Linked DNA regions of Homo sapiens. The protein of the gene in region 2 interacts with the protein of the main gene of each other region in a pairwise test. Each region holds a gene or a part of one and is shown on either strand. Other genes may lie near its edges. The genes, in order: SYCE1, EDRF1, ATXN1 and PHYH.

Region 1 (7,934 bases), 7.8 Mb from region 2:
ACCACCTTGGGTGGACCCAGTATGGGAAAGGCCCTCCCCATAGACCATCCTCTGAGGAGTCCCAGGACCCCCTCCCTTGTCCTCCCGCCCCTTCCGCTGTCCCTTCAGTAGCTGTTTCTGTTCCCTGACGCCCACTTCTGGGGCTTACCACATCTCCTGGGCCAGCCTCTTCCTCTTGTGTGCTCTGGGCTTGGGCAGGGACTTGCATTCCATGCTTTTCCAGCTCTTCCTTCAGCCTGGACAGGAAGAGGTAGGATGGGGGAAGGAAGAGGAGGAAAGGGTGGAGGAGGGACAAGAGGTTTTCAAGAGTCAGAGAGACAGAAGGTGGAGAGAGGAGATACAACATCAGTCATCTTCCTGGTGGGGGTTGCGGGGACAGGGCCTCCACACGCACCTCTGCCGCTTCTGCTGCTGTTGTTGGCACTTCTGCTGCAGCTGCTGGTGGCGCTGGGCAGCAGCTGCTAGGAGCTCCTCAGCCTTCCTGTGCTCTTCCTGAAACAGCTGCCTGGGGGGCCCAGTAGGGGGTGGTCAGCACCGGCCACTCCCTCCTCCCACCCTCTTCCCCTCCACATCTTACACTGTGGCTGCAGCCTCCTGGCTGCGGAGAAAGAGTCCCTCATCAAGGGTGGAGGGGCCCTCAGCCCCACACAGGGAGCACAGCTGATGCTTCACGTCTTCCAGTGTCGCCTTGACCAGCTTCTCTGCAGCACAAAGGGGCAGGTGAGCACATGAAGGCACGTGAGGTCAGATATGGGCCATCCACCTTCCCTGGTCTCACCTTCCTTGAGCAGCTGCTCCTTGCTGCTGTCCAGGGCACAAATCTCCTTTGCCAGCCGCTCTGGCATCTGAGGGGCAGAAAAGAGGCCTGTCCACTCCTCTTGGCTTTCCCCCATGCCTCAAAGAAGGCTATCTGGATCTTGTTTCATACTTACTCACTATGCCTCACTTCCAACAACTCTGCCCCTCTGTGCACACCAGCTACAGTACAGCCTCAGGGCCATGGCACTGGCCATTCCCTCCCTGTGCACTTCTGTCATCCCACATCTCTGCGGTACTGCAGTGGGGATGCTCATGGATTGTTATTTACAACAGATAAACCTGCAAGCACTGTGAGTCTTGGCTGTTTTCTGGAGGATCAGGTACCGGTTTAGCTCTGCAGCTCCTCCCCACTCCCCTCTGTCCTGGTGTGACCTCCTCACTGAGCCCTTCCTTCCTGACACTCACTGTCTATTTTCTTGTTCAGTGCCTAGGATCCTCCTGGGGGACAAACACGGGCTGCTTATCCTCGTTGTCTCCTTTGTGCCCGTGATGGTCCCAGACACATCCACGGACAGTGATGGAAGACTTGACCTTGGTCTCATCAGAGATCCCCCTGACCACTGAGCAGCAGGGTCACAAGGAGGTGACAAGGGACTGGATTCAGGCAATGTCGATCTTAGCACCACCAGGGCTTGCTTGGCGACTGGTTGTGGCAGGTGAGAGGAAGAAGTGACCGTTTGGGCCTGGTGCTGCTAGGGAAGATGTGGAAGGGGGAGGAGTGGCTTTGAGGGACTCACGTGGAAGTCCCAGAGGTCCTTGTGCTGGCCCATCAGATCTTCCAGCTGTTCCTCGAATGCCAACCTGGGAACCAACCACAGGCATGAGGGGATATGGGCTGAAATCACCACCTTCACAGCCTGTCCAAGTCTGTGGTTCTTCAGGCAGATTTTGGGGTGCTTTGCCCATGGTCTCTGCTCCACTGGGAACATCTTCACCACCTTGAATCTCCATGGCTCAGTGTAGCCAGCTTTTCTAACCCCCATCTTTGACATTATATCCCAACTACTGGCCATCCAAACCCCCTGCCTCAGATGCTAAGGTTTACCTCAGCTGTCTCTGTTTGTTCTTCTCTTCTTCAATCTGCAAGTTCAGGGCAGAAATTCTCTCCTTGCACTCCTGCAACATGGTGTGCTTCCTGGGAGAGGCGAGGCAGCCCTCAGCCATGTTCTCTTAAGCCCCAGGAGGGCACTGGGCTGGGGCTTCTGCCTCCCTCTATTGAGGCTATTTTTTCCCTCTACATTAAGGTCCTTCTCTGTAACATGTGGTAAGTAGGGAGTGACATGACCATTTGCCCCCTGGAAGTATTGTTGTCAGGTTAAGAGAGATTAATGTGGACATGGTTAAGTGAGCAAATGCACACACATCTTAGTATCATCTCGTTTTCCCAAAGAGCTGAAATCTCAGTGTGCCAGGGCCTGGGGCCTCTGGTAACAAATGAGCTAAATCAGGAGGTGGAGAAATGGATGGACAAATCGATGGGTGGATGAAAAGATAATGGATGAATGGAGAGAGAATGGACAAATGGTTGGCTCAATGCCTAAATGAACAGACAGATGAGTGAATAGACATCCAAGGAGTATGACAAAGAGTAAAAGGCAAAAAATAAAAACCAGCTGAAGAAATTTAATTGACAATTTAGCAAATGAATGTCTTGCCATTGAGAGAGTTTCCCTTAACACTACTGCCAGCTGTTGGAGCCGAAGGGGAAAGACATTCTTTGGACTCTCCATTGTTTAGAGGGAAACAATGAGAGCTGTGGGTCTCAGATTCATCTTCCTGCCTCTTTCTGCTCTACCAGAATAAAGAGGTAGTGCAGAGTTAGGCTCAGCTGGAAGCTCTTACCTGTGTGCCTCACTTTCCTTTTCCTGGCAATGCAGCCGGAGGATCCTCAGGGTCTCTGTAGGGAGAGCAACAGGGCCCTATGAGAACCTGTCAAGGTATTGGGTTTTGGCAGGGGGAACACAGCCAGATCATGTCAGGTCTGTGGACACCTGATTGAGCTTTAACATTTACTACATGTCTGGTGGAAGCCACAGGAGAGAGGCAAGCTGGGACAGGTTTCAAAAGGCTTCAGCTGCCATAGGGAGAGTGGGCTTCTGTGGGTTGGCAAAGGCACAAGCCTGGAGACAGGGGAGCGGCAAATACCTTGTTTTTTGCTCAAGATCTCCTTCAGGTGTACTTTCTCTCCATGCACTAGAAAACAGTGACACATTTTGGCATCAGGGACTATGCACTGCACCCTCAGGGATGGGGCTTGCTCACGGTCACATGGGAAGCTGGGCACAGCCTTGGCCCCAACCCAAATGTGAACCCTTGAGGTGAGCCCCTCCCTACCCTCTGGTGCCCACATTCCTTGTAAGCACCAAAGGGCCTTCACATTTACAGAGGGTGGCTGTGAGGGCCCTGGAGGATGCTCGTGCTTTTACATGGGGAGGAGAGAAAAAATACCAACACCCACGAAGTGGGATAAGGGCTATAAAGAAACACATCAAATAGGATGGGGCATGTGACCAGATGGAGGCAGGGTGCCATCTTTAAATGGGATGATTGGGGAATGCCAGTCATCCTGTCTGGGGACATTCTAACTTAGAGCTGATGATGTGAGGAAAGAGGAACCTGTATTATCTGAGGAAGCACAGACAGCGTCTGGCAAAAGCCCTGAGGTGGGAATGAGGTTGGAGGGTGTTTCCTGAACACTCCCACAAGCAGAGAGGAGAGGGGGAGATTGGCAGGACATGAGGCTAGAGAGGGTACAGGACCCTTGGCCATGGCAAGGATGCTGATTATCTGGAATACAGGGTTAGGGGAGGCTTAAGACACTGTGGGGACCTCTGGGTGACCCCCGGCTCTCTTACGCGAGTCCAGTTCCTTCTGCAGGGCCTCACAGATGGTCCGGGCCTCTCCTAGGTCTTTATTGGCTTTCTTTTTTGCTTCACCAAAGAGCAGAAAAACATTGTGTGAGTGCAGCCTCTATTCTCTTCCCAACAGTGACATTTCTCATTTGCCTTCAGGTAAATCTATAGTGGCCTAGATTTTATAGAGTAGGAAACGAGGCTTCCAGCTCTCCTTGCCAGGCTCTGCTGATAGCAGGGCCAGGATCATGGGCATGTAACTATGGCAGTCGCATGCTGAAATGCCCTGTACTTAATTTAAGGCTCTGCTGTTGCTGTTGTGAATAACCAGTAACTTTGGAACAAGGGACCCTGCATTCTCACTTGGCACTGAGCCCCGCAAACCATGCAGCTGGTCCTAGCTGGCAGCCAAGGCCCCTGAACTCACCTTGCTGGACCTCATTAATCCGGTTAATCAGGACCTCAACTCGGGGCTCTAGGCTTCCCACTGCACGGAGGAAAGGAGGTTGAGTTGACAGGGCAGGCAGAGTTGGGGCGGTTGCCAGCCTTGTGTCTCTGCTGCTTTCACGCAACACAGATCTATTGAGTACCTCCTGCAAGCAGGTGCTCTGTGGGGCCCTCACGGGGCTCACGTTCTGGGTGGGCAAGACTGGGAACAGACACAATAAGATACCGAATGGGGCTGCGGTAACCGTGTTCAAGAGAAATGAAGTAGGCCAAGGGAGGCTAAAGAGCAAAGGAGTGGGAAGTGCTCCTGAGATATGGGAAGGGACCTGAGGGCCCCAAATCAAGTGGTGGGGGGCAGGCCCTGCAGCAATTTGGGTGGGGTTGGGAGGTAGTCAGTGCAAAGACCCATCATGAGGTGGGAACATGGCTGGCAGGAGCCTAGCGAGCAAAGAGGGAGTAGCGGGTGAGGGGGAAGGAAGGGAAGTGAAGGCGGCAACTTCTGGATCTAATGGACTGCAGTGGAGCCAGATGGGTGACCAGCGAGAGGTTTGGGACAGGGTTTTGGGAAAACATTTTGCCTTCTATACCCTTTTGCTTCTTTAATTTTGAAACATGGGGCCCTATTTTTAGTTTAAGTAATTAAGTTTTAAAAGAAAGAGAAGGTGAAGAGGATTATTTCCCAAATTCGTACATTGTGGGGCCTGAAATTAAACCCACATCTGCCTGGCCCCAAACCTCAGGCTGTGCCTCACACAAAGGAGACACACGACCTTTCTGCAGCTTTTGCACCATTTCCATCAAGTCTTCAATTTTCTGTGAGGACGTGTCCTGCCCTGTGGAGACAAAACCAAACATTTCAGAATCAAGCAGGGCGAGAGGCCACCCCTGGGCTGAGACTGAGGCAGGCTGAGGGCAGGTCTCCAGCCAGAGTGGTGCCCCTTCTTCTTGTCCTGAGGTGGACAGTACACTAGATGAATCGGGCTCCTCCATGGTCAGCTTTTCCCTATAAGGTAAAATTATACCAGATATCCTCTTTGTAAAACTCTGGGTGAGGGCAGGGGTGCACTCTCACTGCTGAGGCTGTTCAAAGTAAGATCAAAGCTCCTGATATAATTCAAGAAAAAAAATGAGGGTATAAAAAACTGGAGCAAGGAGTCAAAAATCACTGTAACTGGCAGATGACATAATCTAGGAAGTTCTTAGAGAGTTTTCTACAAAACCATAAGGATTAGTAACAAAATGCATTAAGATGTTAGGTTAAAAACATATATAAATACAAACAAGCTTTCCTACATACAACCAATACTAACCCTGAAATTTCCCCATAAAATATTTCATGTTAATTTTTTATAATCACTATTGGAACCTATTTTTAACACTAAAATTAGTAGATCTAAGAAATTACTATTTATGGCATTAACATTGTGAAAGGAAAATAAATCTTTTTATAAATAAATCTTTGAAAATAAATCAATTCAAAGTCATCCCTCTGCTCACTGAGATAAATGCATATCTGATTTTGTAAAATAAATATCTGAAAATAATTCAGTCATCCTTCTTCTTACTCAGATAAATGCATATCTGATTGCCTCCTTTGGAAAGGCTAATCGGAAACTCAAAAGAATACAACCATTTGTCTTTTATCTACTTATGACCTTGAAGCAAACCCCCCTGCTTCAAGTTGTCTCATCATTGCTTTGAGTTGTCCCACCTTTCCAGATCGAACCAATGTTCATCTTACATATGTTGATTTGTGTCTCATGTCTCCCTAAAAAGCATAAAACCAACCTGTGCTCTGACCACCCTGCCACCCTGGGCACAGGTCATCAGGACCTCCTGAGGCCGTGTCACAGGCATGCATCCCTAACTTTGGTAAAATAAACTTCCTAAATTGACTGAGACCTGTCTCAGATTTTTGGGTTTCACATTTTGGCAACCACAAAGGGATTCTGAGTAGAGGTGCCCCTGACCTTTGACAAATATCCTATCAGTGCTTGCTAGCAGCTTGAGCTATCTTTATGGTTCAAACTAATATGACAAGTTGCTGAGTTCTGGAAGTCCCCCATCCAGGGAATCCCTCATTTCCCAAAATTCGCTCCAGATCCAAAGTTTATTTTTCTAAACAACTCTACTCTTTTTTTGGAGTTTTTCTTGCTTCCAACAAGGAAGGCAAGTTTTCCTGCTTCCATGAAAGTTCCTTTCTGGAGTTTGAACTCGCTCCCAACAGGGAAGACAAGTTTGAGGGTTTTTTTCCTGCTTCTAAGATGATAGAGAGCAGTCTTCAGCCTAAGACCCATCCCTAGGTAAGTAACTGAATTGGGGTTTGTCTTGGCTAAAGGTAAAATTAACAACCAGCTGGTCTTAATTTTTCCTTATCATTAGAGTGTCCAGTAACCATACAAGTTGTGTGATCATTTGTTTGTTTTGCTTAACTGGTATTTTTTTTTGTTGTTGTTTCTTTCTGTTTTTGTTGTTTTGGTCCTTTTCCTATTGGGTTTGGCCAATTCTGACTTGATCAAATCCAAAGGAAAGTTCCAAATTATGTGGAACAAGGCCTCTGAAGTGGCTAAATTCCCACCAGAAAAGGGGTGGTGGGGGAAGAAAAAACAGCCAGCAAAAGGAAAAAAGGGGGGGAAGATTTTTGATTTTGACTACTTAAGGGGATTTATTTACATAACAAGGCCACCTTTTTGCTAGCCAGGCCAAACTGAAAGAGAAAGGATTGTCACCCCAACTGCAGTTCCATAGCTAAGGTTCTGTCTTCTTTTTTCCATGACAGCCTGGGTTTGGTTCCTAAATCAAGACCTTTCTGGTTTGATACTTGGTACTTCTGAAATAGCAGATATTTGTCCTAGCTGAAATATGTTGATGAGATCTTAAAAATTTTTTAAAAAGAAACTCAAATGGTTAAAAGTCATCTTAATTAAAAGCTAACATCCAATGTGTGTGTGTGTGTGTGTGTGTGTGTGTGTGTGTGTGTGTGTGTGTGTGTGTGTATTTAAAAGGGCTTCATGATTTTTCTTTTTTCTCTCTCCTAGGACCTTGTGTTTTTTGGGCAAAAGTTTTTTTTCTTTTCAGTTGACTGAATGCTATTTTCTTCATATAGTTCTGCTGTCTCTCCTTTCCCTTGAACGCTCTGCTGCATGAGGGACCTAAAATAGTTTATAATAGCCTGAGGTTCCTTAAAGAAAATGGAGAAGGCACCAGACTCCCTTTTGTGGAGAAAATTGTTTTTCCTTGTGTATCCCCAAGAGTGTAAACACACAAGTTCATGTCAGCTCCTAAACTGTTTGCTTTTGTATTGTGTTACCTGATTTTTTTGTTTATTAATTATTGCAACAGAAGCTACTCCTGCATTTTTAAGGAAGAGTATATTTTAGACACTTAGAAATATTTTTTTAATGTTTTTTAAGTACACTGTAAAAGCATCCATGTGGTCGAGCCTCATAATAATTCTCCCTTTTTGCAGACCCAGGATTCAGTGTGGCCTCTTCCCAGAGCTCAGAGATCCAGTTAAAAGATAGGTAGTCACTATCTAAATAAAATTGGTCTCCTGTGATCCAACCACCTCCCACCAGGCCCCAACTCCAACATTGGGGATTACAATTCAACATATTTGGGTGAGGACACAGATCCAAACCATATCACAGGCCAAGGCCAAGGCCGAGGCACGGTTGAGAAGGCTCAGAGGCACCTGACCAAAGTTTGTAACAGTTTTGATTGACAATACCAAATTACCTTACACTGATGTATACAAGATGCCCAGTTTTTCATTTTTACCAATCACCTATGTTTCCAAACGTGTTTATCTTTGTC
Region 2 (7,934 bases):
GAAATTATCCTAAAGCCTCAGAAAATAAAAGTTATATTTGCAAAAATGCTGTTTGTTTGTAGCATCATTTATAGGAGCAAAAAGTTGGGAATAACCCAAATATCATTTTTTAAAAGAATGGCTTAATCAGTTGTGATTTGTCAACATAATTAAATGTTGTGAGGAAATTTGAATAATTATATTGACTCTATACAAATGCTGTGGCAAGTATTTATATGCTTATCTCATTTAATTCTCACAACAACTCTTTGAGATAGGCACTGTTAATTATATTGCACCTGAGAAAACGGAAGCTGAGAAGAGCTAAATAATTTGGCTCAAGCATACAGTAAATCACAAAGCATGCTTTGCTGTTAGGTAGTCCTTGGTAAGTGTCCTGACTCTGCCATTTAGTAGTTGGAACATGGTGATGTCGGGTACCTTTCAGGCTTATAGACTATAGATGTGCTTCAGGTGGTACGTGGCATCAGTTGGCTGCTCAATTAACATTTTTTTTTAATTTCCTTTTGTGGCTGAATTGGTGTCAGGTACATTTTTTTCATGTATTTTTTTAAGAGGTATTGTATATCACTAGAAACACAATCTCAGAAAGTAAAATCCTGATAAATGTTTCTGTTTCTGTTTTTCTTATCTCTCCACCTAAAAAGAATAAAGTTTTGAACTATTTTCCCTTGGAGACTTTGAGTTTTGTGATTACAAAAATAAAGAATAATTGTTTTTATTCTAAATATTTCCTACTGGATGCTTCTAATGATTATTACCATGTTTTATCAAATCTAAGATGCCATTGACTTTAAGACACACCATTATTTTAGTACCACTAAGAAAAAAAAACTTGCCAACTGTGATGGTGATACACATCCTGGTTTCAGAGTTGTTAAAATGTGGAAAATGTGTATCCTAGAAGCAATGAGCTACAGTATTGTTATTAAGCTCTACTTGCATGATTATGAGCATGACCTCATAACCTGTGTCCTTTTTTCTCTTTGGTAGCTTTGGCATGGCATATGACTTTATTGATTCAGTGGGAAATGATGTGGATGTTGTCTCTGACTCTGAAGTAAGTGTTATTTGTCGCTTAATGTAATTTTGGAGGTGTTTTGTGATAGGTGTTTTATATCATGCTGTGTTTTGCATAATATAAATGTGCAAGTCTTGAGAAATTAGTGATGAAATAAGATAAAACTTACCTGATTATTGAGTATCTTTTTTGTTGTTAAAGTATCATTGTTTACCACATTTGTATTTAAAGAGGAAGGAATAATCAATCCCCAAACACTGGCAGTGGTAATAATATATTGATGGTTATATTTTAATGATAGTAATTGAAACTGATAATAGTGTTTGGGATTATTCTGTATATGTTACCAGTTGAGTTACAAATGATATTTCTAGTAAAATCTATTGGATCCTTAGTGGCTTTGATCTGATATGCTAAAAGCCTGGGTCAGCATAACAGTGTGACGTATACACCCTTAACTTTAAGAAATCCTATCATGTAAAAATAAATGTTTGACTGTCACTAACATAATGTGACTCATAAAGTGTACGTGATTCTGGTTTGAAAGCTCCGTCCTCTGTGTGTTTGCATGTAGCTTTTTGTTTAAAGTTCTATTTGTATAACCTTAAGGAAATAAGGTTTATTATGCTTTAAAATGAATGAAGCTAAAATTTAAAAGATTCCAAATCACACTAAAACAGTCTTTCTAAACTATTTTTTCTCTTAATTTTTTAAGAACATAAAAAAACTCCTGAAAATTCCCTACAGCAAGTCGCACGTGAGCATGGCAGTACACCGCATAGGAAGGACTCTCTTACTAGATGAGCTAGATATTCAAGAACTCTTTATGAGATCGTCTCAGGTAATGCTTTTGTGAAAAAATCCAACAAAACATTAACAGCTTAAGAGCACTAGAAATACGATTTTGTTTCAGAGAATGGCCAAAGTGGAAATGTAGTTGAGTACTTCAACAATCGAGAAATTGAAAGTTTCACTGAAGATAGAAAAGCTTGAATGAAGAAAAAAGAAGAGAATGAGAATGGTGAAGAAAATTATTTTATTGATTCCAACAGCCAGATTCTTTTTTACAAGAAAAAAGATGAAGCCAATGAAGAAAGTTGTGAAAAAAACTGTGAAATTTAAGGGACTAGTTTAATATTTTTAAGAATCCTTTAACGTCTCCCTTAAACAGATTCTCAGGAAACACAGCTACTGGAAAATGTGAAAAATATTAGAAGCTGTTCCTATGAATAAATACAGTCATGTTCCCATAATGACGTTTCAGTCAGCGATGGACTGCATATACCGGTGGTCCCATAAGATTATAATATACTGTATTTTTACTGTATTTGCAGTGTTCAGATACACAAATACTTCAGTCACATGTACAGATTTGTAGCCTGGGAGCAATAGGCTATACCGTATGACCTAGGTAGGGAGTAGGCTGTACCATCCAGGTTTCTATAAGTAACACTCTGCGATGTTCACACCAGGACAAAATCACCTAATGACGCGCTTCTCAGAATATATCCCCATTGTTAAATGACACATGGCTGTAGTTATTAGAATTAATTGATGCTCTTTAGCCTAGATTCTCAAATTGTATGTTGGTAAGGACTGTTTTTCCCACATGTTGAGAATGGATACTTTTGAAAAACATAATAACATTGTTGCAGTTTCTCAAGAACTACCCTCCATATCTGTACTTTTCTTGGGCTGGCAAGAAATAGTTCATGGTCAGTCTTTAAAGAATATTACTACAGTGCTTTGATAAAGAAAATTAAATTATGGTGAGGTAAATGACATTTAAAATAAGTGCTTTTTTCCTTTGAAAAGACCACCGTTTAGTTCATCATGTGAGTATGAGCCTAGGCACGGGGATGTGACAGTGAACAAATCACAGGCCTTGCTCCTCAGCAGTTCATTGTTTGGGGTTATAAACACATACACAGATCATTTCAATATAGTGTGCAAAGTGGGAACTACTGCAGCTGCTAAGGAACATGTTATAGAGAAGACTCACCTCTCCCAGCCTGGCTTAGGAGGAGGAAGACGGGTTTCCTTTAGGAAACAAAAAACAAAAGAAAGGTGGTATGAATTGACCCAGAAAGATATGTTTTTAATGAGTATGTGTTTATGAAACTATTCAAAAAATAATAGGAGCCTTTTCTGTAAGCTAGTACTAGGTAACATTGTTTCGACTATGTGTGTTGTATTAATAATATGTATCTCATGTTATCCAGACTGGTGACTGGACATGGTTGAAAGAGTTTTATCAAAGACTCATTGATCAGAAGTGGCAGAGGAAGAAAAAGAGCAAAGAGCACTGGTATCAAAAGGCAATTCTTTCCAAGTTTTTATATTACAGGTACTTGGCTACTTATTTATCTCTAAAGAGAAAAAGGGAATTCTGATCTAAAATTTAGTGTGAAGCTTAATGAAGTTATAATTTAAGTTTTGCCCCTGTGATACTGTTAACATTTGTTTCATATTTCTTTTTTACAAGATGTATGCTTAATTACAGATTGTAGTTTTTATAAACGGGTAGACTGTTGCATGAAGTTAACTTTAGTAACAGCAATCCTTTTTTATTTCTGGTTTGGCCAGTATCAATGGTGATGGAGCCGCTCAGCCTGTCTCATCCACCGCAGAACAGCAGGAATCGTCCAGTTCAGATCAGACAAATGATTCGGAAGGGGCTTCATGGCCTGCTCCCTTCGAAATGCCTTCTTCAGTTTCTGAAGATCCCAGTGCTTCCAGTCAGGTTAGTACTTAAATGCTAATTCTAGAAACTCACATAGGAAAACAAAGCCTTTTTTAACATCTCGTTAAAAAAAAAAAAAGATGAACAGGACTAAGAAATATTCTGTCAGCTTATGGAATGGGGGAAAAAAGACTTCTGTCAATTTATGGAATTGGAGAAATACTTTTTAGTTTTTCGCAATAGAATTTACAAGAGCTATTATAGGTGGGGAGATCAGATTTTTTTATTAAATCGAAATATAATAGTTGACTGATATGTTTATTAATACTGATTATCTCCTTCAAGTGATGAGTATTATATAGAGATATAGTATATTTTAATTATAAATACTAGTCATTTTTAACTATAAATACTATTTTAACTATAAATATCTGTCAATATTTGATAGACATTTCCTACCAAATATTGAGACTCAGAGACCCATTTGTAATTTAAGTTCTAACCTTTTTACCATAACTTTCAGTCAGATTGTTAGACCTAAAATATCCCTTTAAGGTTTTCCAGATAAAATTCCTGAAACTTAGTCCACATTCATGTTATAAAAGTTTTAGAAAAGAGAATGAACTAGGTTGTCCATTTTATCTCTTACATCCTTGTTTCTTCCTAATGCTTGTTTATTTTTGTACTTACTGTATCTATCAAAGAATAAAATAAAGCCATAGATGTAAATTGTGACATGTCTATTTTCAGGAAAATAGATTGATAAATAGATAATAAGATCTGTGACTTGATAAGTTACGTCTTCCCTCTTGCTGTTGTGTTCCCACATATTGAGCACTATTCAACCAGATTGTTTCAATCTTCACAAATTACAGGGAGCAGATACATTTAACTCGATTTTAGTTTCAGTAGGTTTAAGATAGAGAAAGCATCCCATAAAACTCCATAATGAATTTAAATTTCTTTCAAAAGTGAGAAAAATGTAAGGAAAAGGAAGTAATTAATATGCAAGTCACATAGTGGTAACAACCAAGAAGTAGGGATGTTCTATGATTCAGAAGGGAGAAAAGACTACATAATACAAATACTACCCTCCTATTACCCATGTCACCCATCTCCCAGTGTTGTTCTGTCTTTACCTTGTTTAGGAATTACTGTGAAAACTCTTGGAGAGTCGGGAATCTGTAGACTTGCGTGTTGAGGAAGCAAGCTGGCATTTACTGAATAGCTCTTATGCCATGTGTATGTTTGTACAAGGTTTTTTTTTTCATTCTTGGAGCTGCGTATTGTACAAATAAGTAAACTAACGCTCATCAAAAGATGTTTCACATGGTCATACAGCTGGCGAAACTCTCAGGCTAGGGCTTAAACCCAGATCTTTCTGCCTGCAGAGGCCTGTTCCTCCAGCAGTACTCCACTGTGTCCGTGTACTCCACACACAGCAAGGCCCTACTAACAGTCAGATCATCGTAGTAGTGGTGTATCCCTAGGCACAGCTAGCCTGCCTTAAGAGTCTCTTACAGAGTACTTTTCTTATATTGCTTAAATTTCAGCTTTAGAGATTTGTTTATATTTGCAAGCTATCTCTGCACAAATTCTTGTTCCAAAAACTAAAACTGCTGGCTTGAGGCCTTTGTTAAGCAGTTATAGAGGTTAAATAGGTGACTGTGGGATGGTCCTAGAGCCAGACATTTATTGAGAACGTTGTAACCTAGAGCTCATACTCTGACTAAAGCAACTGCCTGGCAAACTGTTTTGAGAATCGGTTCATGAGTTGATAACTTGTCTGTGTAAACAAATAATAAAATAAAAAAGAGTTTAAAGTTCTCTTAGGACTCCTGAGGGAGAGGACAAGGCACAATAGAAGTGCTAGAGAGCCACCTGTGCTTATAGTCACACACTCTTCCCAAGCAGGTGCCAAGCCTACTGGCACACACAGATGACAAGTAAGACAGATGTTTGTGGAATAAGCAACACACGCATGCCTGTCTTGGGTTCTGTTGAGGCAATGACATTAAAAGCTTAAAGTAGTATTTCTTAATGGCAGTACTACTTTCCTAATGATTGGAAAATTGAGTGGTAGGCTGAGTTTACCCAGTGTCAAGAGGGCCCAAGTGTATTCCAAAATGCATTCCAGGCTGGGCGCAGTGGCTTATGCCTGTAATCCCAGCACTTTGGGAGGCCGAGGTGGGTGGATCACTTGAGGCCCGGAGTTAGAGACCAGCCTGGCCAACATGGCGAAACCCCATCTCTATTTAAAAAAAGAAAAAAAAATTAGCCGGGCATGGTGGCACGTGCCTGTAATCCCAGCTACTCGGGAGGCTGAGGTAGGAGAATTGCTTGAACCCAGGAGGCGGAGGTTGCAGTGAGCTGAGATCATGTCACTGCACTCTGGCCTGGGCAACTCTGTCTCAAAAAAAAAAAAAAAAGTATTCCAGAGAATATCTTAAGAACAAAAAGTGTTCTGAGATTAAATACATTTGGGAAACATTGGTTTTTACAAAGATAAAGTAGATTTTTCTATTGCAGGATTACTTATTATATATTTATTGTTTTAATATCAATAAATATTGTTACTCCACAAAAGTGAGTACCTGGTAAACGTCATCTTTCAAACCTGACTCTGGAAAATTTTCATTCAGTTTCCCAGGAACTAGTGTTCTGTGAAACACTCATCAGGAAATGCTAAACTGGAGACTGTTAAGATAATGAGTATCTCAAACTGTGGCTGAGTAAGATTTCTTAGGGTTTCTTTTTTTTAAGAGACAGACTCTCATTATGTTGTCCAGGCTGGATTCGAACTCCTGGGCTCAAGCAGTTCTCCCCTGTCGACCTCCCACATAGCTTGGACTACAAGCACATGCCATCGTGCCTGGCCAGTTTCTTAGGAATTTTTAAATTCAATATAGATAGAGTAGGCTGAAAGAGCAGTGGTAATCAGATGCACCAAAAAAGAGAAAAATGAAAAACTTAGAAAGTTTAGAATAATCTTTAATCTATCTCTCTTGAGTAAGATCTAAATGTGATTCGCTTCTTATAGTAGCTATGATCATTAGCCAAAGCAAGCCACCCAATGAGGCGTGTTATTATTTGTATTGGCCTAATAATTCACAATGGTAGATTTGAAGTGTGTGCTTTGAATATTTAGGTGATACTCTCAAAAGTGGGTCAATTTTAAGAAATGTTGACAGCAGAATCACTCCTTATCCTTGCACTTTTCACAGGGAAGTGAGCCTCTTGAACCCTCATACATAGTGGGGCATGTGGCCTCAGCCCCCAAAGAACAAAACCTGATTACTTTATTCAATGACGGGGAGCACAGTCAGGTATGCTTTCCATGGTGTCCAAGGTGACAGCAAATCCCCAGTCTACTTTGTCATTTCAAAACTAGCCTAAGTCGAAATTGATAGGGAAAAACTCCACTTGATCCTGAAACTGCTTTCTAAGCATCTTTGTGATCTTAGCTCTGGGGCCTGACTTTGTCTTCTTTGTCTCTTCCTTTTTCTAGTCTTTTTATGGATCATGGGGGGAAATTACAGATTGACTGTTTATTATAATCCTCCCTATTTTAAATCACAGGGTCTTAAAAATGATTTTGTTCGGAATATTCTATGGACATTTGAAGATATCCATATGTTGGTCGGCTCCAACATGCCCATATTTGGAGGAGGCAGATACCCAGCAGTCAGCTTACGTCTCAGGTGAACTAACATCATACCCCTCCTCAAGCTTATGGTATTTAAATTCTTCCTTTAGAATCAGTGTTCCATCAGACTGAGGTTGCAGTGAGCCAAGATCATGCTACCGCACTCCAGCCTAGGCGAAAGAGCAAGACTCGTCTCAAAAAAGAATCAGTGTTCCATCTATTTGGGCATCTTCCTCTTTCTCTAGGTTTTTTCCCCTCCCTCCTTCCCCTGCCAGTTGAAATGGCCACATTAAGGAAGGAGCTACTGTCAGCAGATGCTGAAAGGCAGGCCTATAGCTGAGTCTTCATTCTAGACCTCATTGAATAGAGCCAGAGGTTTGTTGGACTGGCCTAGTCTTAGGTCTGAATCTACAACTTGTGAGAATATTCAAGAGAGTTTATTTAATTAGTTAGATTCCTACTAACTACTTGTGAGCATTTTTCTTAATGCTCCACGTGTATTTGTTGATATTAGCCAATGTGAATTCCAACTTAAGCATGGTCTTGTATGGTGTTCAGTCTTTCTTCAAGTTGTGTGTGAGGAG
Region 3 (7,934 bases), on a different chromosome or scaffold from region 2:
GCACAGGAACTCTTGGAAAGGGATTGCACCATAACGGCTAGCGCTGTGGCATTTAATCTCCTCTGATTGCCCTCTCACTGTGCATGCATCAGTCAATATTTTAGCAGCTCCGCAAATAAATGGACTTGAATGCCATCTTCTACATAAAGCAGAGGTTGAAGGGCTCCCCTGAACCTCCTGGCTGCCTGTCAGTGGTGTAGGTTTTCGGTGCACTTACTCCAGTCCTGATCACTCATGTAATTAGATCAGGCTGCCATGGCAACAGACAGTGTTCCTCGTCCATTCAGGTGGGTTTGTCTTGTGCCTGAACTACTCCAAGTGTTTTATGCACAGCATTTATGCTGCCCAAGCCAGACGAGAGACTCCACTATTTCAATTGCATCTTCTTTCAGTCATTTGGATGGGAGACACTGAATGAGGCTTCTAGCTACTCAACTTTTATAAAGGAGACCAACAAGCTGTTCTTCCTAGGTGCAGTATGTAAATGCATCTCCCCAGACAGTGAAAGGAGCCTGACAATCCTGCTGGTGTTTATTGTGAACAGATCAACAAGTATTTGGTACTTGTTAGAAACCTTTCAGAGCTCACTAAAGCAACATTTCTTTTGCAGTCTGGTGCCTTTGGCCTTGCAGTCAGTCACTTAACCCTTTCAAGTGTGAAGAGCGTTCATCATTTGGAACCTCCATTGCCCATAGCGATGGCTGGATTTCTAAAGGGTTTACTCAGGGGAATAACTTATTCGGAAAATATATTCCCATTGTCACATTTTAAAACTTGACAGCCATCATAACAAAAACTGGTACTGACAGTAGGCAGACATTCTGAATGTATTCATTCTTAATTTGGATCTATTGGCTGTGATTTGAATGATCTTTGGTAGTAAGTTAAAAGGATTTTTTTTTCCTTAGCTAAGCGAGAAACGATAGAGGCCTATAGCTAGAGGACTGATAGTGCATGGTGCTTTTGGACAATAAACATGTACTTTATTTTAGGATGTAATTTAGTGAGCAGTTAGAAAGCAGTATTCTAGTCTTTGCATTAGGGCACCACTGATAAAGCTGGCTAAGCAAAGAGAAATAATATTATGGCAAAAAGGAAAAAAGGAAAAGTTGCTTTAGTTGCTGAAGCTCTGTGCTGCTCAGGCAATCCAACTAAGTGGGGCAGGGGGCGGGCGGGGGGGAGTATTTTCATAACCCTGGTATTTGAAAGAAAAGATAATTGAGAATTATGTCTTGATTTAGTTGTGACTGCCAGTCAGTTTACAATTTTATGGCCAACAAAGCTAAACTGGTAAATTTTTTCCCCCAGGGCTAGGATTGAGAGAGCTACTCAACTCTATTCCCAGGGGGTTTATGAGTTTTTACCGTTTTGTGAGTTTATGTGGTTGGTAAATTCATTGTGGCCTGGTCAGATGAAGCACTGCTGTAGTTAAAATGAGCTATTATTTCTTCTAGCTACTCAACTTTTATAAGGTGGTAAATAGATGGGAAGCAAGGATGTCAATATTACACAATGCCTTGGAGGTCCTGGATTCTATTTTGCAACATATAGAAAAATGCTTTACTTGCAGTAAAATGTGAACATATATTTTTCAGTGCACAAATAAATTCATGTGAAAATAAGTATAAAAAAATGTACCTGGTGGGAACCGCCAAAGGCAATATTTTTCCTTGCGGATTTCGTTTTAAGAGGGTTTGGTAAACAGAAGTGACACTTTGTCAAAAATGTTACGACTAGACTTCAGGACTTCTGAATTGTCTTTTACACTTAGAGGAAGATTAAACAGAAACTCTTTAGCCACAAGATTACATGTCAAATGCCTGTAAGTTTCAACATACCTAAGTCAGTTGCCTAGGAGTCCTGGGAAAGGCCAGTGCTGAGATTATTGAAATATTAGTAAACATTACTATGACTCCTGTTTTTGTTGTCATTATGGAGTCCAAGGACGCACATTTCTTTGAATAATGTTGTGCCTTTATTGTTTTTCATTCTGAAATGTCAAGTGGATTTTACTTTTTTGCACATACCTTGAGTGACAGTTTCTGATGACTAACACTAACACTCATTTTGTTTCCTATTAAAAGTTAAGCAATAAACATATTTTACTAAAATTCTGAAACTCACGTAAGTAGGTAAATGTGGGAGTGAATGTTAATTCTTTAAACTGTAGTTATCTGAAAATAACACATAGATTAGGATCTGAACAGCTTAAATACTTGCATCGGTAAAGTGACAATAGTGAAGTAAGACAGGCTATTATTTTTAGGGGAGAGATAGATTATTTGACTTTCCTTGCTCTGTATTTTCAGAGTAATTCAATAGTTCGAATGATTAGTTTCTGTGAGAGATTTAGATCTGTGCAGCTTAATTGCTTCAAATAACAGATTTAGTTCTGGTCATACTTCCAAGGTTATCAGAAGCAGGCCCTCCTTATTTTGATAAAAGCATTGAAAGCAATACATTGTAGAAATGGTAATAGAAATAATAATTTCTGTTTTAGGACCTTACATATAGAACTTCCTTTTCTAAGATAAGAATTTTAAGTCATCAATTATGTTCACATTTTATTTTCATGTAATTTAGTTTAATAAAATAAATGTACTCATTCAAAATTTTTTTAAGAAGTGATATACAGTGTCAGTTTTACAGAATTTTTTAAATGTTGGCTGAAAGAACGGTAATTACATTGAGATTTTTAAAAATATATAAATGCTTAAAATTACAGAAGTAATAAAAAGAATGGTTTTAGACAAATCTTATGGAAAGTTTTTTATTTTATTCTTTTATAATTATATTTATGGATATTTGTCTTTATTAGTGTAGTAATATATTTTATAACGCTCATAATTTGAACTTTCAGGCTAATGTACTATAAATATTTGTATTACGCATTACTACCATCCCAAATGTACCAAAACACGTTTAGAGAGAACAATTATGGACAAAAAAGCAACAAGCATTATATTTTGTTTGACATATTTCATGTTAGCAGAAATGTTTCATTGATTTTTCTGTAACTTTTAATGCATCCCATTTGTGGAGTAATGAAAATGTAATGATAATTGCCACAATGTAAGCAAAAATTGTATCCTACCTGAAAATTACTTTCCAGAAAATTCATGGTAGTGTACTCAGAATTTGAGACTCAAGAGGGCAGAGGTTTCCCCGATTGTGATGTTTTGATTTGGGCTAAGAGGAACTCTTTTTTTTTTTTTTTACACTTAGGTGCCCTTTAACATGACAAGTTTTGAATGAGTTAGGTAGCAGAAGTTTTTCGTGACAGTTATTGTAGCTACTAACCTATAGCATCTATCCTTCTAACGTTCAAAGAAAATATATTTTTCTGTCACTGTGTATGGCAAACTTTATTTTCTTGTGCCCTTAATTTTGTTCCCCTTTCTCACATTATCTCCTGGTACTTACTGACCATTACCTCAGTTTTGTTTAGGCCGTCTTTCTTGTTAATCTTCCAATATTAATAGTATTGTATTATGTTGCTCTGCTGGGTTTTAAAAATATTGAGTATTCCATTTTTGGTGTATATTATTGTATAAAATGTCCTATAAATTATTTTCTGGTATATTATTTTGTAAGTTTTTGCAGTGAATACGTGCTGCCTTGCTTGTATTCTTGCCTTCTTCCCTCTGATGGAATACAAGTTATGTAAACTCTCTGTATTATCCTAACTAGTGCAGCAACACAAATACTTTTGAAATAAGAAAGCATACTCATGCAAGAGTAAAGTAATCTTCTATGGCATTTACATCATGTTTGACCCTCCTCTGCACTTCAGCAAACTAGGAGGAGGTTGTAACTTGGACTCTATAAAACCTTATCTGCCAGGTGATATGTAAACAGGATTGTGTGCACACACATTGTCATATAGGCAAACACTCTCCCAACTGGTGAGCTCATAAAAAGCACTGTCTGTAAATTTATGGTACCTGCACCTCATTTGAGAATCAAGTATTTTGATGCTTAATTTGAGATGACATCATGATCCTCCCTCCCTGCTTCCTCATCCTTAAAGAAGTACTAAGATTAAATAGAATTTTGTCAACTTCTACTTAACTTGGCCATTATTTATATTTGTAACTCAACAGGCTTCTTGGTGGAGGGACTGTGCCTTCTAAAGATCTGAAAGACCTTATAGTGTATAACAGCTTACCTTCCTTCTCTGTACGCACAGATCACATGTGGGGAAACCAAGGACTACAAGAATTCCTTCTTTTGCATATCAGTCCTCGGCAGGCAATCAATGCTTAAATAAATGCTTGGTGAATGGATTAGTTAGAAGTAAGAACATTTTGGCTACTGTTCATTACTTTGAAAAGTGCTGGAAAGAAGTGGAAGTTATTTTCCTTTCCAGCTGGGCTGTGCTCTTAAAAATAGTGAGTGTGTATGGATGAAAATAATCATGAGTACCGAGATGTGTTGCCATGTACCCAAGGATAATTGGCTCACTTACCTGTTTACGGATTATTCACATTGGAGATCATATTCATAGCTCCAGAATAGTTTCTTTCTGACATCCAATATAAACCTGGGCCTCCTTCTTCCTACTGTTACCTGGCGTGAGCTTAGGAAACCCAAACTAAGTTTAAAATCAGCCTAAGCAAATGTGCAGATCAGCTCCAGTAATCAAAGACTGAAAATCAGTCCAGCATTCACTAGTTTGGGGATGATTTTATAGTAACCCTGCTACTGATTTTAAAAAAATTTTTTTTTCTGTTTAATGTGGATAATTGGTAATTACCGGTATTTAAGAATATAATTTTAATGGATAGGGCTAAAAAAATACGTTAGCAGATCGAGTCCTCAACTTCTTCCGTTTCTATGCATAGGTTTTACCTCACAAAAACTACTACAAGCACCAAGCTCCCTGATGGAAAGGTATATGGAAGATTCATTCATTCTTTCTTTCATTCATCCATTCACACATTCACTCATTCATCATACAATGGAAAATTTTTACTTAACCATGTGCAAGGAATTGTGGCAAAATGAAAATGAGATGTACATTCAGTATTTAAATAAAGTTTAGTGGAAAGTTTAGTGAATATAAATGCACACTTTACACTTTTTTTCTGCATTTTTTCCTTTCTTCTATTCCATTGGACTGGTATGCTAATAGCTGTGCACTTTCATCATTGTGTTTCAAGTTGCATGTTGATAGATAATATATGCCACATTAAAATTAGGCTTTGGCTCAATTACTATTCAATCCATGCCCATTTTCACCTGATACTCCTTGTAGTTACCAGCATGTGTTTATCAGATGATTGGCTAGAATCATTGGAGAAAAGAATGACAGCGGCTGGCTCAAATGGGGAGACCATCCTCTTAATTTGATGGAAGGGATGACCTTTTTGTATGTTGGCCTCCCTCTGAGCCTTGTTGAGTAAAACCAGACCTGCCTTTTGAGCTGGCTGGGATCTGTGTAATTCTCATACAACAGAATGCCGAATGTGATGTTCTTAAAATTTGTATTTCGGTGCATAGACACTTAAGGTGGACTTATTTTTTAAAGCAGTCTATTCTGTTTTTCATTTTGGATTTCCTCTCCTGCACTCCCTCGACCATTGCAGGAGCATCGTGCATCAAGTCACCAGGGTGGTCCATTCAAGCTGCAGATTTGTTTGTCATCCTTGTACAGCAATCTCCTCCTCCACTGCCACTACAGGGAAGTGCATCACATGTCAGGTGAGAGTTTTGCGATGCTCTCTGTTTTCCATCTGAGGATAAAGTCCTGACCTGGAAAATTGCCTCCTAGCCATGCTCCCTTACTTTGTTGGCTGTTGAATATCATTTTCTTTGCAAACTCTGTTTGGGCATAGTGTGGGAAGTTGAGAAATTGCCAAGATTGTTTTTTAAAACTTCGATTAAAGTATCTATCTATTTGGTTTAATCTATATGTTCATGAAGACTTTCATTTGACTTTGCGATGATTGATAATTGCCAATTGGGGCTTGAACCTCATCATTTTAATTGTCAGTTTTCCTTAATACAATTAAGAATGCTATGCTACCAGATATCTTAAGTCACAGTTTTTGCATTTTAGATTACTGTTGTAGTATAATATGTGCGTAGCAAAACAGAGACCTATTTGTTTAGGGGAACCAGTATTTGTTGAATCTTGAATTTCTTTGTGTCTGTTTGGATTTTACAACTTCCTGATTTTCCCACGTACAGTAAGTTTTTCTGGCCTGGAGAGTCATGCAGACATAGGGTGTATGCAATGGTGATGACTCATGGTTCTCTATTGAAGAAAGGGCCAGAGGATATTGCCTCAAATTAAATCAGGAAGGAAAAAGAGGTTTGCTAGAACTTGGGGCAGTAAGGGCTTGGGAACACAAGGGTTTGAGTGTATGTAACCAAGGGAGATTGTGAAATAGAAAATAGGGGATCAATTTCTATTTGCCTTGGAAATGGACCTGCTTGAAACTGTGAAGACAGACTAGATTAGAGGTTCCCAAGCCTGGCTAGGCAACAGAATCACCTGGAGAGCTTAAAAAAATAGAATTTGGAGCTCCACCCTAGACTTGATGAATCAGAATGTTTCCTGCTGGAATCATTGATCTGTCTAGGCACTGATGCTCCACAGGTTTGGGAACCCCTGGGTCGGCCGGTCTTCCAGCAACTCTTCCTAAGTTATGTTCTGTAGACTTAGTTGGTGAGAAGCTCATTCTACTTTTAGCAAATCTCCCATTTGAAAATTTGAATTTTCAAAACTCATTTTTCAAGAGGTAGATGGATATTTGCTTTATAACAGGTTCATTTAAACAATAATTGACCAGATTTCTTTGAAGAAAGAGCTGCCTCTTTACCGTAAGAGCCAATTTTTAAGTTACATATAAATTCTCTGGCATCTTAGATAAGAGCATGGAGCTCCGTAATCAACCCATCTGGACTTAAGATCTGGAGCTGCCACTATGACCTTGAGTAGTCCTATGTCCTTTCAATGCCTCAGTTTATTCATGTATAAGATGGAGGTAATATTAGAACTTTCTTATAGGGCTGCTGTGAGGATGGACTGGAGTAAAATAGTAGATATACTGTGGGTAGAATAGTACCTGGTGTATGGTTTGTATCTTTTAACAGATGCTATCAAGTAACTTATCCCTCAACAGGTTGATTGTTATGGTCATGTTTTATGATGGTTGCTCCTGAACCATACATGACTAGAAATATGTAAATATACCTGGACCTTGGTCTTTGGACCCACCCTGTAGACATCTACGGCTCTGCAAAGCCAAGGAGCCTTTTATTTGTTTTTGCTGAATTTTAAATTCTGAATTTATCACAACTCTCTGACTGATGGGATGCATGTGTGGTTTTTTTTTTTTTAGATTGTTGTAAAATGAACTGATGAATTGCATGCATAAATGTGGTTATTTGTGGTCTGAGTAAAAATAAACAAAAACCTGAGTGACTGAAGTATTATGCCTCAGGAAAAACAGCCAAAAAAGTCCCAGTGGGGGACAAGGTGGAGGAGGGAAGAGTCATCACAGACACGATACTCTTGTAAAATATGGAACTGGATTCCTTACATTTTATTGGCTGTGGATTAGAGAGGTGTTCTTTAAGTGGAAATGTAACCTAAAGTTACATGCAAAGGTAAGCCTCTTAAGATCTACAAGTGTCAGCTGAATGAAAAAGGTAGGGTGGGCCAGGCACAGTGGCTCATGCCTTTAATCCCAGCACTTTGGGAGGCTGAGGTGGGTGAATCACTTGAGGTCAGGAGTTTGAGACCAGCCTGGCCAACATGATGAAATCCTGTCTCTACTAAAAATATAAAAATTAGCCAGGCATTGTGGCAGGTTCCTGTAATCCCAGCTACTTGGGACACTGAGGCAGGAGAATCGCTTGAATCCTGGAGGCAGAGGTTGCAGTGAGCCCAGGTCTCGCCACTGCACTCCAGCCTGGGCGACAGA
Region 4 (6,700 bases), about 110 Mb from region 2:
TTAGCCGGGCGCGGTGGCTCACGCCTGTAATCGCAGCACTTTGGGAGGCCTAGGTGGGTGGATCACTTGAGGCCAGGAGTTTGAGACCAGCCTGGCCAACATGGTGAAACCTCGTCTCTACTAAAACTACAAAAATTAGCTGGGTGTGGTGGCGTGCACCTTTAGTCCCAGCTACTCGGGAGGCTGAGGCGGGAGAATCACTGGAACCTGGGAGGCAGAGTTTGCTGTGAGCTGAGATCACACCACAGCACTCCAGCCTGGGTGACAGAGCAAGACCGTGTCTTCAAAAAAATTAAAAAAAAAAAAAAAGAGTGGGTGCTTGAATATTTCTTACATGCACTAATGGACAAAAGGGACATGGATCAGATGGGAAATGAATGTTTCCTGATGGCAACCAGTTGGTTTTCACTCACAAAGGCACACAGGAAATAACAAATTGCTCTTCAATATTCCTACTGAAATTTAGTTTTTCATATTCACTTTAAATTTGAAACAATTTAGAGTTTATTCCATAACAAAGCAGGGCTCCCCACATGTTGTTTACACAGGCATTCCTTTATTACGTTTTATTTCCAATCATCCCATAATCTAATTTCCTTAGATTCTGTCAGTGATCTGCCTTCTCCAGTTCCCAGTGGGAGATGAGCTTCACTTGGCTGTCCTCACAAACAAAACGGCACTCATGGCAACACTAGATTTAGGAAAACTTGTGCTTAGCAGAATGACAAGAAAGGTACTCTGTTATTTCTTTCTTACTAAAGCCCTAACTAAAATTTGTAAAAATAAGGACTATGTCTCCTTGCTGCCCTCAGCTGGTACCGAAAATATGGTGCTGTCTTGAAATAAGTTTGTTCAGTCCATGCTCACTCCAAATCCAGGGAAAAGTATCTAAAAAGTTCCCTATAGCTTGAAGGAGGTTAGGCTTCATTCATAAATGTGGAAAGTTTCCAGCAGCCCTACCCAATAAGATACATCAAATGAAGTCACCCTCATCTTCGTTCTTTTTATTTATTTATTTTTCATTCCTTTTTTTTTTTTTTTGAGACAGGGTCTTGCTCTGTCACCCAAGCTGGAGTGCAGTGGTGTGATCTCAGCTCACTGCAACCTCTGCCTCCCAGGTTCAAGTAATTCTTCTGCCTCAGCCTCCTGAGTAGCTGGGATTACAGGTGCATGCCACCACGCTCGGCTATTTTTTTTTTTTTTTTTTGTATTTTTGGAGAGATGGGGTTTTGCCATGTTGGCCAGGCTGGTCTTGAACTCCTGACCTCAGGTGATCCACCCACCTCGGCCTCCCAAAGTGCTAGGATTACAGGCGTGAGCCACTGCACCTGGCCCTTGTCTTCATTCTTCAGGAACAGAGGAAAGGACTGGAAAGAACAAGTCTTCTTGTTAAGGGAATGGTTGGGTTGAAGAAATCACAGGAGAAAGCCCTTGTCCGAGCAGGAATATCCACTTTATTTGGACTCCATGACACCGTTCCTATGCCCTTGACTAGATGTGAATGTATTATACATTGTTCTAGATTTGGGGGAAAAAAATCTCTTATGACATAAAATTGGTAGGGAATGGGTTTATCAGAAAGGGGATACAAAACATACCCTAAGCTCCAAATCATTCACTTCTTCTTGGGTAAAGAGCTAACTGAATGAAAGAAATTGATTTAACACTTAAATTAGACACCAACCACCTTTATTGGCTGCCACCCTAAATTAGTTTTCCTTAAAACAGTAATATTTCACTTTTACTGTTTTTTTTTTCCATTAAAGCAACACCATTGTGCTGCAAAACTAACTCTATGCAATTAAGTACCTGATACATGTTTTCTGCTTTTAACAAGTGATAGAAAAGGTTACATCATCTCATTAAGAAAACATTTTCCTTAGACATTTCGTTTGGTTTTGGTTTTCTGTTGAAAGAGTTATAGCAGATGGCTATTTCAAAGATTGGTTCTTTCTCCTTTCACAAGTCGAGCTCGAAACATCCAAATATCCTGGAAATAATATCAAACAGAGTGGGTTTATGGAACACTTCAATCTGCCCTCCATTAACCTTCAATTTCACCATAACACAAAATTGATTTCTAGCTTCTATGAAAGGTTACATAGGGAAAATAATCCCTGTAAGTTATATTCATTAGTAAACAAAACAACTCAACTTAAACTACTTACTCAACTCTTTTTTAAAAATTTTTTGGGGACACAGTCTCACCCCATTGCCCAGGCTGGAGTGCAGCGGCTCACTGCAACCTCTGCCTCCCGGGTTCAAGCGACTCTCCTGCCTCAGCCTCCCGAGTAGCTGGGATTACAGGTGTGCACCACCACGCCCAGCTAACTTTTTGTATTTTCAGTAGAGACAGGGTTTCGCTACACTGGCCAGACTGATCTCAAACTCCTGGCCTCAAGTGATCTGTCCGCCTTGGCCTTGCAAAGCCTCCCAAGTGCTGGGATTACAGGTATGAGCCACCACTCCTGGTCTACTTAACCGACTTCTAAAACAGTGTTAACTAAATTAAGTCAGTGGGTCCCCCAGCTGCTGTCAGTTCTGTTTTATTCAGGATATTTGTTGGTGCCAGCTAACATAACTGGGTCAATGTCATGTCGGGTTACAGAACAAACAGTTCACTGCCATTTTTCTGCATAATTTTTTTTTTTGAGACGGAATTTTGCTCTTGTTGCCCAGGCTGGAGTGCAATGGTACCATCTTGGCTCATTGCAACCTCTGCCTCCTGGGTTCAAATGATTCTCCTGCCTCAGCCTCCCAAGTAGCTAGGATTAGAGGCATGTGCCACCACACCCGGCTAATTTTATATTTTTAGTAGAGACGGGGTTTCACCATGTTGGTAAGGCTGGTCTCAAACTCCTGACCTCAGGTGATCCACCCGCCTCAAACACCCAAAGTGCTGGGATTACAGGAGTGAGCCACTGCACCTGGCCTGATGACTCTTATGTTACTTGTCTGAGCCTTTTTGAGTGTTCTACTCTTGATGAGATGATAATAGTGAACATGGTATCAAGGATTACTGCTTTGTTTGGTGGGTTTCTTCCCCCTCTGCCCTTAATAAAATAATTTAGATGTTCTTATTTCTTGGTTCTTGTTTATTTTTGAGCAAACAGCAAGGTATGGTGGAAAGAATAATTTTCAGATTTGACCTGACTCTAAAATCAAGCTTTGTCGCTTAGCTAGCTTAGATCAGCCTCTGGGATTTGTTTTCTTGTCATTGACAGCATGGAGTTTATACTGCCCCACCGGGTTTTGGTGAAGAAAATAAGAAAATGAATATGAATGTGCTTTTGTACTTTACAGAGAACTATGTAGCAGAGGTTAATATTGTTATTCTAAATATAACTTACAGAGTAATTAAACTAAATGTGGGAGGTATTCATTTAGCACAACCTTGACAAACCTCAAACATAATGTACATATATTTGTTCTCCCTTAAAATTTAGGATGTTAGCTCAAAGCTCCAGTTGACAAAATGTATAGGCATTTTAGGTACTGAACAAAAAGTGAGGAAGGACAAGAATTTCTAGGACCTGCAAATGCAAAATCAGAGCATTTTCAGAGATGCGACACATTTCCAGGTTCTAAAGGGAGAAGCAAGATTCCTTCTTTTGTTGTTGTTGAGACAGAGTCTCGCTCTGTCGCCCAGGCTGGAGTGCAGTGGCATGATCTCGGCTCACTGCAAGCTCCGCCTCCTGGGTTCACACCATTCTCCTGCCTCAGCCTCCCGAGTAGCTGGGACTACAGGCATGTGCCACCAGACCCAGCTAATTTTTGTATTTTTAGTAGAGACGGGGTTTCACCATGTTGGCCAGGAAGGTCTCGATCTCCTGACCTTGTGATCTGCCTGCTTTGGCCTCCCAAAGTGCTGGGATTACAGGCGTGAGCCACCTCGCCCAGCCATAAATACTCTATTCTATATTAATAAACATGGCCTATGATTGGATCTCAAACCTATAACTTTCCTTCTATCCCTTCAGAAGGCTTTTTTTTTGACACATGGTCTCACTCTGTCACCCAGGCTGGAGTGCAGTAGTGCAATCAGCTCACTGCAGCCTTGACCTCAAGCTCCAAGTGAGCCTTTCAACTCAGCCTTCGAGTAGCTGGGACTACAGCTATGCTCCACCCAACCTGACTAATTTTTATTTTTATTTCTTTTTTAGTAGAGATGGAGTCTCACTGTGTTTCTCAGGCTGGTCTCCAACTCCTGAGCTCAAGTGATTCTCCTGCTTTGGCTTCCCAAAGTGTTGGGATTTACAGGCATGAGCCACCATGCCCAGCCAGAAGGCAAGGTTTTGTCTTTGATTTTCTCTCATCTCAATCTGTAGTTTTGTTTTCCTTTACTGTCCTGTGTGAAACAGGACAGCCAGCACACCTCTGGACAGCCCCAAGACATAAAGAAGCAGCAGGAAGTTCTCAAGCCTCCTGCACGGGGGCACAAGTGTAAATGGAAATTCCATTGTCATTTTTGGTGGGGGCTCAGCGATGTCCCTAAAATGAATCTAAACCCAAGCACTATATACTGTCAAATAAACTAGGTATGAGAATTATGAAGCATCTGAAGAAAAGAAAAACCTGAGATTTTTACCTTGCTATTGTATACAAACATACCTTCAAGTTCACGCTATTTTCAGCTCCAAAGAATTTATGTGCTATTCCTACAACTTCCTTCTCGATGTTTTCTTGACTGGTGCCCTTCACGTCAATGTAGTGGCAATCGGCACTGGCGAAATGGCAGGAAATTGCCTGTGCAAAGTGAACAAATTGATATTGGAGAAAAACATCCCATGAATACCAGTGACCAAGCAGGGAGTCTTTCTTTTAGAAAGTCATTTATTTCACTCAGTATTTGATTTCTAAGTGGAAAGTCAGGTCCATTGCATCCTGTGTCAATCTCTTTGTAACTAAGCCTGTTTTTGTTTCCAGCTAGAAGTTAATTGAGAAATTTCAAAAGATCGTTAACCAGATGTGACATGTATTTTTGAAAGGTATATATGGGAGAGGGAATGGAATTATGTCAGTAAGAGGTATTTAGTTTTTTTTTTTTTTAGCATTTTATTTTCCTAATGAATGAATATCCCAAAGTCTTAAGAAGGACTGCATTCCACGGCAGTTTATCTCATAAGTTAGTTACCTGGTCCAATTTGGGATGAATTGTTATTTCAGTGGCAATAGATTATGAAAAGAACTAAAAATACCTTGAGATAGAAAATAATGCAGACACCTTCTCTCAAATCAAAAGGACATTTAAAAGCCAATACCAGTGACATATATTACCCCTCTTGCTTCCTTCTGAGGGTAAGGATGAAATTGCTTGGTTCTCCCTATTTTAGAAAAAGTTATAAACAGATCTAAGCTGCAAGGCAATCGTTAAAACTTACCTTTTTTGTCACAAGTGATCACACTTGTCAGAAAGACTTTCTACTTTGCCCCAAACAACAAATTTCTAGGGAGTGGAGTCACAAACTCCATTGCCTCTGTAAGCCCTGGTGCCATACGGCACTGTAACAGAGCCCAAGGCAAAGGGAAAACACGCACCCCTATATCTGTATCTTTATGAAATTATAGTAATATTTTCCCAGAACATTAAAGTCATTAAGCCTGGGCACGGTGGCTCATGCCTGTAATTCCAGTACTCTGGGAGGCCAAGGCAGGAGGATCACTTGAGGCCAGGAGTTCAAGACTCGCCTGGGCAACATAGCAAGACCATGTCTGTACAAAAAATGAAAAAATAAAATTAGCCAGGTGTGGTCATGCATGCCTGTAGTCCCAGCTACTTGAGAGGTTGAGGTGGGAGGATGGCTTGAGCCTCAGTGTTCCAAGATGCAGTGAGCTATGATTGCACCACTGCACTCCAGCCTGGGCAAAAGAGCAAGATGCTGTCTCAAATAAATATATAAACAAATAATAAAATGTTTTAAAATAAAAGCATTAAAAAACATTGGGCCAGGCGAGATGGCTCACATCTGTCATCCTAGCATTTTGGGAGGCCAAGGTGAGACGATCACTCAAGGCCAGGAGTTCGAGACCAGATTGGCCAACCTGGGGAAACCCCATCTCTACTAAAAAATACAAAAATTAGCTGGGCATAGTGGCGTGTGCCTGTAGTCTCAGCTACTCACGAGGCTGAGGCAGGAGAATTGCTTGAACCTGGGAGGCCAAGGTTGCAGTCAGCTGAGATTGCATCACTGCAATCCAGCCTGGGCAACAGAGTGAGACTCCACCTCAAAAAAAAAAAAAAAAGAAAAAAGGAAAATTGCCAAGTCTATATATTAAAACCCACAACATGATTTGTGTCGTTGTGCCTGCACCTCGCTACTTGCACAGCTCTGAAGGTTGTGCTAGTGTGGGGTCCAATAGTGTCTTTTATTTAAACTTTTGGCATTGTGCGCAGCCAATACATTGGGTATTTTGCATTAATTTTGATTTTTTTAAATTTCGCATTAAAATGTTACTAAACTCGATTGCAGAGTCTTTTTTTGGCATCCCCTTACATTTTACCCCTGGAGAGAGTGCCCCAACTTGTCCCACCCTAATCCTGACCCTGATGAGGCTGGTGGAAATATGAATGAATGGAAGACGAAATTTGGCCCCTAACCCATGGCCTCAGGAGACAACAGTGATTTTTTCTTTTTTAGTAGAAGTGGGGTCTCGCCATGTTGCCCAGACTGGTCTAGAGCTCTTGGTCCCAAGTGATCCT

What was found.
Region 1: the proteins of EDRF1 (region 2) and SYCE1 interact in binary tests that used the Homo sapiens proteins (3 or more experiments, as listed by UniProt).
Region 3: the proteins of EDRF1 (region 2) and ATXN1 interact in binary tests that used the Homo sapiens proteins (3 or more experiments, as listed by UniProt).
Region 4: the proteins of EDRF1 (region 2) and PHYH interact in binary tests that used the Homo sapiens proteins (3 or more experiments, as listed by UniProt).

What each region holds. Positions count from the first base shown.
Region 1 is NC_000010.11:133,555,203-133,563,136, forward strand, and holds part of SYCE1 (synaptonemal complex central element protein 1), read right to left. Parts: intron 4,952-7,934; coding exon 4,889-4,951; intron 4,159-4,888; coding exon 4,099-4,158; intron 3,750-4,098; coding exon 3,675-3,749; intron 3,013-3,674; coding exon 2,965-3,012; intron 2,717-2,964; coding exon 2,662-2,716; intron 1,955-2,661; coding exon 1,865-1,954; intron 1,621-1,864; coding exon 1,557-1,620; intron 846-1,556; coding exon 779-845; intron 702-778; coding exon 578-701; intron 506-577; coding exon 395-505; intron 237-394; coding exon 149-236; intron 1-148. UniProt on the Homo sapiens protein: Major component of the transverse central element of synaptonemal complexes (SCS), formed between homologous chromosomes during meiotic prophase. Requires SYCP1 in order to be incorporated into the central element.
Region 2 is NC_000010.11:125,722,075-125,730,008, forward strand, and holds part of EDRF1 (erythroid differentiation-related factor 1), read left to right. Parts: intron 1-993; coding exon 994-1,060; intron 1,061-1,736; coding exon 1,737-1,862; intron 1,863-3,243; coding exon 3,244-3,368; intron 3,369-3,607; coding exon 3,608-3,764; intron 3,765-6,928; coding exon 6,929-7,030; intron 7,031-7,283; coding exon 7,284-7,405; intron 7,406-7,934. UniProt on the Homo sapiens protein: Transcription factor involved in erythroid differentiation. Involved in transcriptional activation of the globin gene.
Region 3 is NC_000006.12:16,751,002-16,758,935, reverse strand, and holds part of ATXN1 (ataxin-1), read left to right. Parts: intron 1-4,844; exon of another isoform or gene 4,845-4,893; intron 4,894-5,588; 5' UTR 5,589-5,703; intron 5,704-7,934. UniProt on the Homo sapiens protein: Chromatin-binding factor that repress Notch signaling in the absence of Notch intracellular domain by acting as a CBF1 corepressor. Binds to the HEY promoter and might assist, along with NCOR2, RBPJ-mediated repression. Binds RNA in vitro.
Region 4 is NC_000010.11:13,276,365-13,283,064, forward strand, and holds the end of PHYH (phytanoyl-CoA dioxygenase, peroxisomal isoform a precursor), read right to left. Parts: intron 4,747-6,700; coding exon 4,612-4,746; intron 1,991-4,611; coding exon 1,937-1,990; 3' UTR 1,435-1,936; downstream 1-1,434. UniProt on the Homo sapiens protein: Catalyzes the 2-hydroxylation of not only racemic phytanoyl-CoA and the isomers of 3-methylhexadecanoyl-CoA, but also a variety of other mono-branched 3-methylacyl-CoA esters (with a chain length of at least seven carbon atoms) and straight-chain acyl-CoA esters (with a chain length longer than four carbon atoms).